2 separate regions of the Homo sapiens genome follow, and region 1 is linked to region 2. Evidence: fine-mapped expression QTL. A gene starts in region 2. The other region holds a variant in brackets. All regions are shown on one strand. Distances are from middle to middle.

Evidence for each region. PIP is the estimated chance that this variant, and not a neighbour inherited with it, causes the effect. A credible set is the group of variants that fine-mapping cannot tell apart.
Region 1: its variant is the best candidate, but not a certain one, in a credible set for the expression of LURAP1L-AS1 in prefrontal cortex (CommonMind, PIP 0.78).

The regions. Positions count from the first base shown.
Region 1 is chr9:12,743,258-12,747,660 of GRCh38, reverse strand. The region is part of intron 3 of LURAP1L-AS1 (LURAP1L antisense RNA 1); the gene reads left to right. Among named protein-coding and RNA genes, the nearest start is that of LURAP1L, 30 kb to the left of the region's middle. The variant C/T (reference allele first, on the strand shown) is at 2,017.
Region 2 is chr9:12,812,412-12,816,814 of GRCh38, reverse strand. It overlaps LURAP1L-AS1 (LURAP1L antisense RNA 1), which reads left to right and starts at 2,426. Exons shown (of 4, transcript NR_125775.1): 1 at 2,426-2,522. All of the region lies in intron 1 of LURAP1L (leucine rich adaptor protein 1 like), which reads right to left. RefSeq lists an enhancer at 1,614-2,813.

The DNA of each region.
Region 1 (4,403 bases), 69 kb after region 2:
TGAATGGTGGTTGCCTCTGGGAAGGTGAAAGTAGAGATTGAATGGGAGAGAGTATGAGGAATATTTCTGCAGTAATGTTAATAGTCTATATTTTGACAAAGATTTGAGTTACACAGATGTATACATTTGTCAGCATTCAGTGAATGTACACATAAGAATTTTATATTATGAAAATAATTTTTTCATCAAAAGAAAAAAGATGGACAGATATTCGTTTTATTTAATGTTATGCATGCTGAAGTCTCTAGTAGGAAGTATGCTGAAGTCCACAATTTACTTTAAAATGCATCAAAGAAGATGAATTACTGGATGGATGGAGGAATAAATAAATGGATATACACATAAAACACCTCCCGAAGAGGGCCGACTAGAAGCAGCGACGTTTGGAGGCTCCCATAGAAAAAAAAAAACGAAAAAACATAATAAGCATGTGAATCCTTCACCAGCAACCAAGGTATCCAGGTTCTCTCGTCAAAATTGACTAGAAGGCTGGCGTGACTCATGGAGAGAAGGCCCACCTGAGAGCCACACGGGGAAGGGAAACCCCCTTCCCCCAGCCAAGGGAGGCACCGCCTTGAGTGACATCTCTGGGCACAGGAGAAAAATCAGATGAATAGGGCCTGAAGTGAACCCTCAGCAAACTGCAGCAGCCCTACAAAAGAGAGCCCTAACTACTGAAAGAAAAACAAACAGAAAGTAACAACAACAGCCACAACAACAAAAAGGCCCCCACAAAAATCCCATCCAAGGGTCAGCAGCCTCAAAGACCAAAACTAGACAAACTCATGAAGATGAGAAAGAATCATCAAAAAAATGCCAAAAACTCAAAAGGCCCAGAGTGCCTTGTCTCCTCCAAACGATTGCAATGTCTCTCCTTCAAGGGTGCAGAACTGGTCAGAGAATCAGATGGACAAATTGACAGAAGTAGGCTTCAGAAGATGGGTAATAAAAACTACACTGAGCTAAGGGAGCATGTCTACCCCAATGCAAAGAAGCATGTATACCCAAATGCAAAGAAGCAAAGAAACTTGATAAAAGGCTAGAAGAATTGCTAACTAGAATAAACAGTTTAGAGAGGAACATAAATGACCCGATGGAGCTGAAAAACACAGCACAGGAACTTCATGAAGCATACATAAGTATCAATGCTGAATTGACCAAGTCAAAGAAAGCATATCAGAGTTTGAAGACCACCTTACTGAAATAAGACATACAGACAAAAATAGAGATGAAAGAATGAAAAGGAATGAACAAAGCCGCCAAGAAATATGGGACTTCATAAAAAGACTGAACCTACAAATGATTGGTGTACCAGAAGGAGACGGGGAAAATGGAAACAAACTGGAAAACATACTTCAGGATATTATCCAGCAGAACTTCCCCAACATAGCAAGAGAGGCTAACATGCAAATTCAGGAAATACAGAGAATACCATTGAGATACTTCATGAGAAAATCAACCTCAAGACACATAATCATCAGATTCTCCAAGGTTGAAATGAAGGAAAAACTGTTAAGGGCAGCCATAGAGAAAGGCCAGGTCACATACAAAGGGAAGTCCATCAGACTAACAGCAAGCCTCTCAGCAGAAACTCTACAAGCCAGAAGATATAGGGGGCTAATATTCAATAGTCTTAAGGAAAAGGATTTTCAACCCAGAATTTCATATCCAGCCAAACTAAGCTTCATAAGTGAAGGATAAATAAAATCCTTTCCAGACAAGCAAATGCTGAGGGATTTTGTAACCACCAGGCCTGCCCCACAAGAGCTCCTGAAAGAAGCACTAAATATGGAAAGGAAAAATCAGTACTAGCCACTGCAAAAACACATCAAAATATAAAGACCAATGACACTATGAAGAAACTGCATCAAGTAGTGTGCAAAATAATAAAATAGCATCATGATGACAGAATCAAATTCACATATAACAATACTCTCCTTATATGTAAATGGGTTAAATGCCTCAATTAAAAGACACAGACTGGCAAATTGGATAAGGAGTCAAGACCCATCTGTG[C/T]GCTGTATACAGGAGACCCATCTTACATGCAAAGACACACAGGCTCAAAATAAAGGGATGGAGGAAAACTTACCAAGCAAATGGAAAGCAAAAAAAAAAAAAAAAAAAAAAAAAAAGCAGGGGTTGAAATGCTAGTCTTTGACAAAACAGACTTTAAACCAACAAAGATCAAAAAAGAGAAAGTAGGCCATTACACAATGGTAAAAGGAACAATTCAACAAGAAGAGCTAACTATTCTGAATATATATGCACCCAATACATCAGATTCAATATATATGCATCCAGATTCATCAAAGAAGTTCTTAGAGAACGAAAACAAGACTTAGACTCCCACACAATAATAGTGGGAGACTTTAGCATCCCACAGTCAGTATTAGACAGATCAACAAGACAGAAAATTAACAAGGATATTCAGGAATTGAACTCAGTTCTGGATCAAGTGGACCTAGTAGACATCTACAGAACTCTCAACCTCAGATCAACAGAATATACATTCTTCTCAGTGTGACATGGCACTTATTCTAAAATCAACCACATAATTGGAAGTAAAACACTCCTCAGCAAATGCAAAAGAACTGAAATCATAACAAACAGTCTCAGACCACAGTGCAATCAAATTAAAACTCAAGATTAAGAAGCTCACTCAAAACCACACAATTTCATGGAAATTGAACAACTTGCTCCTGAATGACTCCTGGGTAAATAATGAAATTAAAGCAGAAATCAACAAATTCTTTGAAACCAATAACAAATAGACAACATACCAGAATTTTGCGGACACAGCTGAAACAGTGTTAAGAGGGAAATTTATAACACTAAATGCCCACATTAGAAAGCTAGAAATATCTCAAATCGACACCCTAACATCACAAATAAAAGAGCTAGAGAGGCCGGGCGCAGTGGCTCATGCCTGTAATCCAAGCACTTTTGGGAAGCTGAGGCAGGTGGATCACCTGAGGTCAGGAGTTTGAGAACAGCGTAGCCAATGTGGTGAAACCCCATCTGTACTAAAAATACAAAAGTAATCGGGTGTGGAAGTTGGGAGGCAGAGGTTGCAGTGAGCCAAGATCATGCCACTGCACTTCAGCCTGGTCAACAGAGACTCTTTCTCAATAAAAAAAAAAAAGAGAGAGAGAGAAAGAGGGGCAAGAGCAAAGTAATCCAAAAGCTATCAGAAGACAAGAAATAGCTTGGCTGTGGATTTGTCAGAAATAGCTTATTATTCTGAGATATGTTCTATATATACCAGTTTATTGAGAGTTTTTAACATGACGAGATGTTGAATTTTGTCAAAGGCCTTTTCTGCATCTATTGAGATAATCATGTGGTTTTTGTCTTTGGTTCTGTTTATGCAGTCCACAGACAAGATCAGAGAAGAATTGAAGGAGATAGAGACATGAAAAGCCCTCCAAAAAAATCAACAAACCAGGAGATGTTTGTTTGAAAAACTTAACAAAATAGACTGTTAGCTAGACTATTAAAGAAGAAGAAAGAGAAGAATCAAATAGACACAATAAAAAATGATAAAAGGGACACCACCACTGACCCCACAGAGATACAAACTATCATCAGAGAACACTATAAACACCTCTAAGTAAATAAACTAGAAAATCAAGAAGAAATGGATGAATTCCTGGATGCATACACCCTACCAAGACTAAACCAGAGAGCAGTCAAATCCCTGAATAGACCAATAACAAGCTCTGAAATTGAGGCAGTAATTAATAGCCTAACAACCCAAAACAGCCCATTACCAGATGGATTCACCGCCAAATTCTACCAGAAATACAGAGAGGAGCTTCTACCTTTCCTTCTGAAACTACTCCAAACAACTGAAAAGGAGGGACTCCTCCCTAACTCATTTTATGAAGCCAGCATCATCTTGTACCAAAAAACTGGGAAGAGACACAACAAAATAAGAAAACTTCAGGCCAACATCCCTGATGAACATTGATGTGAAAGTCCTCAATAAAATACTGGCAAACTGAATCCAGCAGCACATCAAAAAACTGATCCACCATGATCAAATCAGATTAATCTCTGGGATGCAAGGCTGTTTCAACATACGCAAATCAATAAATGTAATCAATCGCATAAACAGAACCAAAGACAAAAACCACATGATTATCTCAACAGATGCAGAAAAGGCCTTTGATAAAATTCAACATCTCTTCATGTTAAAAACTCTCAATAAACTAGATATTGATAGAAAATATCTCAAAATAATAAGCTATTTCTGACAAATCCACAGCCAGTATCATATTGAATAGGCAAAAAGTTGGAAGCATTCCCTTTGAAAACCGGTACAAGACAAGCATGTCCTCCTCTCTCACCACTTCTATTCAACATAGTATTGGAAGTTCTGGCGAGGGTAATCAGGCAAGAGA
Region 2 (4,403 bases):
TACAGTTTATGTCATATGGTTCAGCTTCCTACTTAGTCTCTCAGGCTTCAGGATTATGATGTCACAGGTCTCTGTATTTTAGGGAGAATGTTGAGATTTCATGTCATTTTTTTGACAGGTGATGAACTGAGTCTATGGTAGAACTTGAAATGAGGAATCTTGAAGGAGAAAATATTCTTAACAGCAAACTTTCCCAGATATCTTTTTTTCTTCTAGAGTGCCATTTAAAAATTGAAAGAATACAAAGGTTATGCATTGGCACAATGGAATCTAAGAAAAAAATGCAGTCGGAGTTTTGGTTGCTAACCAAGTTGACTTCTTTGTGGTGTTGTATGAGGAACATGGTACTGACTCCAATCTGCCACTGCCACTATCTTCCTATTTGACCTTTGGGGAAAGTGGCTTGGCATACAGGACCTCAGTTTCCTTATACATGAAGAAAAATCAGGAGATTTCATTCCGAGCTGCAGTGAACCATGGGACTCAGTGAAGGTGGTAAAGTAGTTCTGTGAACAAAGACTAATCTTACCCAATAAGAAGACTGAATTCAACTGAGGCATCCACCTAACATATCTGCTTTTCATACTGAGATTTCGTTTCAGATATTTAATAACGTCTTATAACATTTCAGGCATTTAATGTTTAATTTAATAGGAAGAGTCTACAGATCAGATAATCCCAGGATTTCCTTCCATTTCGACATATTCTCTGATATTTTGCCATTCCTGTGGCCATTTGATTACGAAATTGTTTACGTTATGAGAAAATTATTCAGGCTATAGAGGAGACAGAAGAATCAATTCTGCTGCTCAGTAACTCCAGCAAAAGATGTAGCTGGTAAAAACTCATGGCTAAGGCTAGAAGTTTGGGTTTGATGTTAATTTGAGGTACTTTATCAGAAATTTTGTCATAATAATTTTTGCTCTCACCATTTGGGTTTGAATAAAAATCATTTTTGTATTCCACTCCAAGACAAACGTGCATATCATCTTTAATATGTCTATATATTAACTGAAATGTGCACATGAGCTGCTGAATATATCTTCCAAATAGGGACATTTTTTGCCTTTCTGGAGCCTTGGATAGCATCATATACTCAGGTTTCTCATAAAGCCCTCCTCCATTATTGTTACCCTTTTATTTATGAATGTCAACTAGTCAGATAAAAGCAGGCCACCTCCTAGTTATACATTTGTATGGTAAAATCCACAATATTCAAGATGTAAATCCCAACCATCCTGCAAGCTGTAATATGAATTAGAAGGAAGAAGGACTTCTTTGCAAGTCCATAGTCACATACATTGAAGGAAGAAAGATTAGACTTGCTTTTTAATGTGATGCTCTAACCCTAGTTTCTCATTAGGAGAAACTAATCATCGTTCTCTCTGATTTGTAGTTGGTGGAAGAGAGTTTAGTTCTGTCAGGGCCTCTTTTCTATCCACATTTATTTTAGAATATATTTTTAAAAGTCTATATAAACTGAAGAGCTGTTTAAAAGCACTTGGAGTATTGTTTTTCCAGCAATTTATTCCAGTTTGTTTGCTTGTTCCTTTTGCATAAGCTCCTTGTGTTCAAATTTGCCCTCTCTCCAAATTCAGGACATCCTCAATTTGATGATCACAGAAGATTTTCTGCCTACCCATCCTTAAAATTTCCAGCAGTGTTTTCAATATCTATACTTATAAATCACTCCTCTGTTTTCTCAGAAGATCCATAAAAATATTATCATCTTTTTGCAGCCTGAGAAGACACTGTACAACATTTCCACTCACTGTTTTTGGTTTGGAATGCTTCAGGTGAAAAGCCTACAATTATGCAAAAGTCAGTGCTGTTCCTTCCACCAAAGCTTTCTTTCACTTTCTCAGTCAGTTCAAAATTTACAACAAAATTTGTTTCTAACTGGGCAACAGAGGATTCCCTTTCACATCAGTCAGCTTTGTCTTCCTCCATTTTTGTTGTTTATATGTGGAACTGAACAATAACTGAAACAGTTCACTCTTTTCCCAGAACGTTATAGAAAAGTAATTTCCCCAAGGACTAAATTACATACATAAAAATACTGTCATCAGCACAGTGGACTGATTGATGTTGTTTTGATAAAGTAGAAAGCTGTATCTGGTGTATTTGAAAGGAGCACATGTGACTCCTGTGAATCATAAGCATAAATTCCGGCCACCAGGCCTGCTCGTGAGATCTGTACAGTTTCTGCTGGTGAGTCATCTGATTGCCAAAGTAATACATGCAGCTTTTCAGTATGATTTCATCAGATTCTAGGTCCAATTGATACTTAGATGCCTGTGATGTCAATTCCTTTTCCATAATCTAATACAGTGAAAACTGTTTCCCTGAATATTTTCAACATGAATGTGCAAAGAGTAATTTAGGCTGATGCAATCGGCTATAAATCACCTGAGCCGAGATTCATTTAGAATGATCTAATGAAAACATGGACTCCCCATATTCACAGCAGAGAAGTTTTTCACATTGAACACAGACCAGAGAAGTGTTTCCACTAATTTATAGTAAGTATTGTGCATGTGTGTCTTTTCAATTTAGAACTTAAGATATTCTTTTCACATGGTAGACCAGGGCATGTTAATGTGCTCCTCCGTGATCTGTAGTGGCCACAGTTACATTGTAAGGGAAGGACACAGGGTAGTGTGCCAGTAAATGTTTAACAAGCAGCTTCCTGGGAAAAATAAACATGCACACACACACATGCATGCATATATACTACAAAATATAATACAAATTGTGCTGATATAGAAGATGTATAACACACACTTGACAGATAATAATAAAATATACAGCACTTTTTATTGTCAATTCCATATAACCAACTGATTTCAGAGAATGTTTTATTTATTCTTGCTGAACTGTTGTATGTATAGCAAACTATGGACGCAGTTCAAACAAAATGTCACAAATACAGTTAATCTCAATTGATAATTCATTCCTCAATAATTGTTATTGTTACACCTGATATGTGATCCACTGTTAAATTATTTTTCACTTAGTGAAAACTATATTAATTAAACTGAAATTTGTTTCAGCCTCAGCATGGGTTATGTTGGAATTTTACTGGTTCATCAATGATGTCAGCAATTTCTTCACTGAATTGAATAACAGTTTTCAAATACATGGAGAATATTTCCTTTTTTTGGCACTATTGGAAATGTAATAACTAGGGACATGCCACAAATTTCAATTTCAATCTGCAGTATTAAAATTTTCTCTATCACTTAAGTCTAGACAACCAATAAAATAAAAATCAAGTTCTGCTTTATAGTGTTTTTAAATTTCTGTAGCATAAATACTCCTACATGGCCAATTTGAATCTGTCTATAGAATGTCCTTAAACATAAACATGGGATTGATAAGAGATACTCGGTACTAGAGCATATACGGTATTTTCACCCTGTGAATAAAATAGATGTTTTAAAAACCTCAAAAAATCATGAAAGTAAAATGTAGTAAAATAATTAGGATGCCATGAATTTTGAGTATTTATTACCTTTGTTTTAAATTATAGGTTTATATAAATACTTAACTAGTAGGTTTATATAAATACTTTAAATTTTAATAATGTCTGTGATTGGCAACTAGTTCACAAAACTCCTGAAAATTTAACAAAAAGCTCACACATCTCAGTAGATATTAGCTTCAGTGTACCATTGAGGAGGTACGGAATGAAGGCTTTACTTAATTGATTGCATTTTGTAATAAGCAGATTAGAGACTTGCATTTTACCCCTTAGGGCTTTTATTTTTCTAGACGTAATTAAAATCTGAAGGTAATCTTATCTTTTCCATTGAATAAAATTTGAGATAGATGTAAAATATTTATACCAAAGTTTTTAGTGTCTTTTCTGGAAAGATTTCAAAAACTGAATATAAATGACTCAGCATTGTTGAGACATGAAATATACTGAAAAAGGGAATAAGCCAGGTATCTAAACTCAGTTGAACATTTATGCTTTTGTATTATAATAATTTTTGATGGCTATATTTCTAAAATAAGAGGCCACTGTTATAAACAGTAGGCTTTATAATGCAGAGTTGTTCAGCAATGCATTTGAAGATTGTTGAGGAGATAGGACTGTAATCTCTATTTTTACATGATTCCTGACATCTTTTCTACTCAAATGCTTTATCTTCTCTTTTAGTAATTTCTTGATACTATAATTAAATCTGTTTGCCGTGGATCTTATGCCCCATATTTCTTCTTCATTCTCCCAATTCTATTTCCTACACGCTATGTGCAGCCCAGTAGTGCTTTAGTAAACTTACTTTGTAAAATTTTTTGTAGGGGAGAACTGACTTGAAAAGAAAAGTGATCTCTGTATTTCTTACAAAGGCAACAGAGAGTGAGTAAAAATAAGTGAGGAAGCAATCTCTGCAACA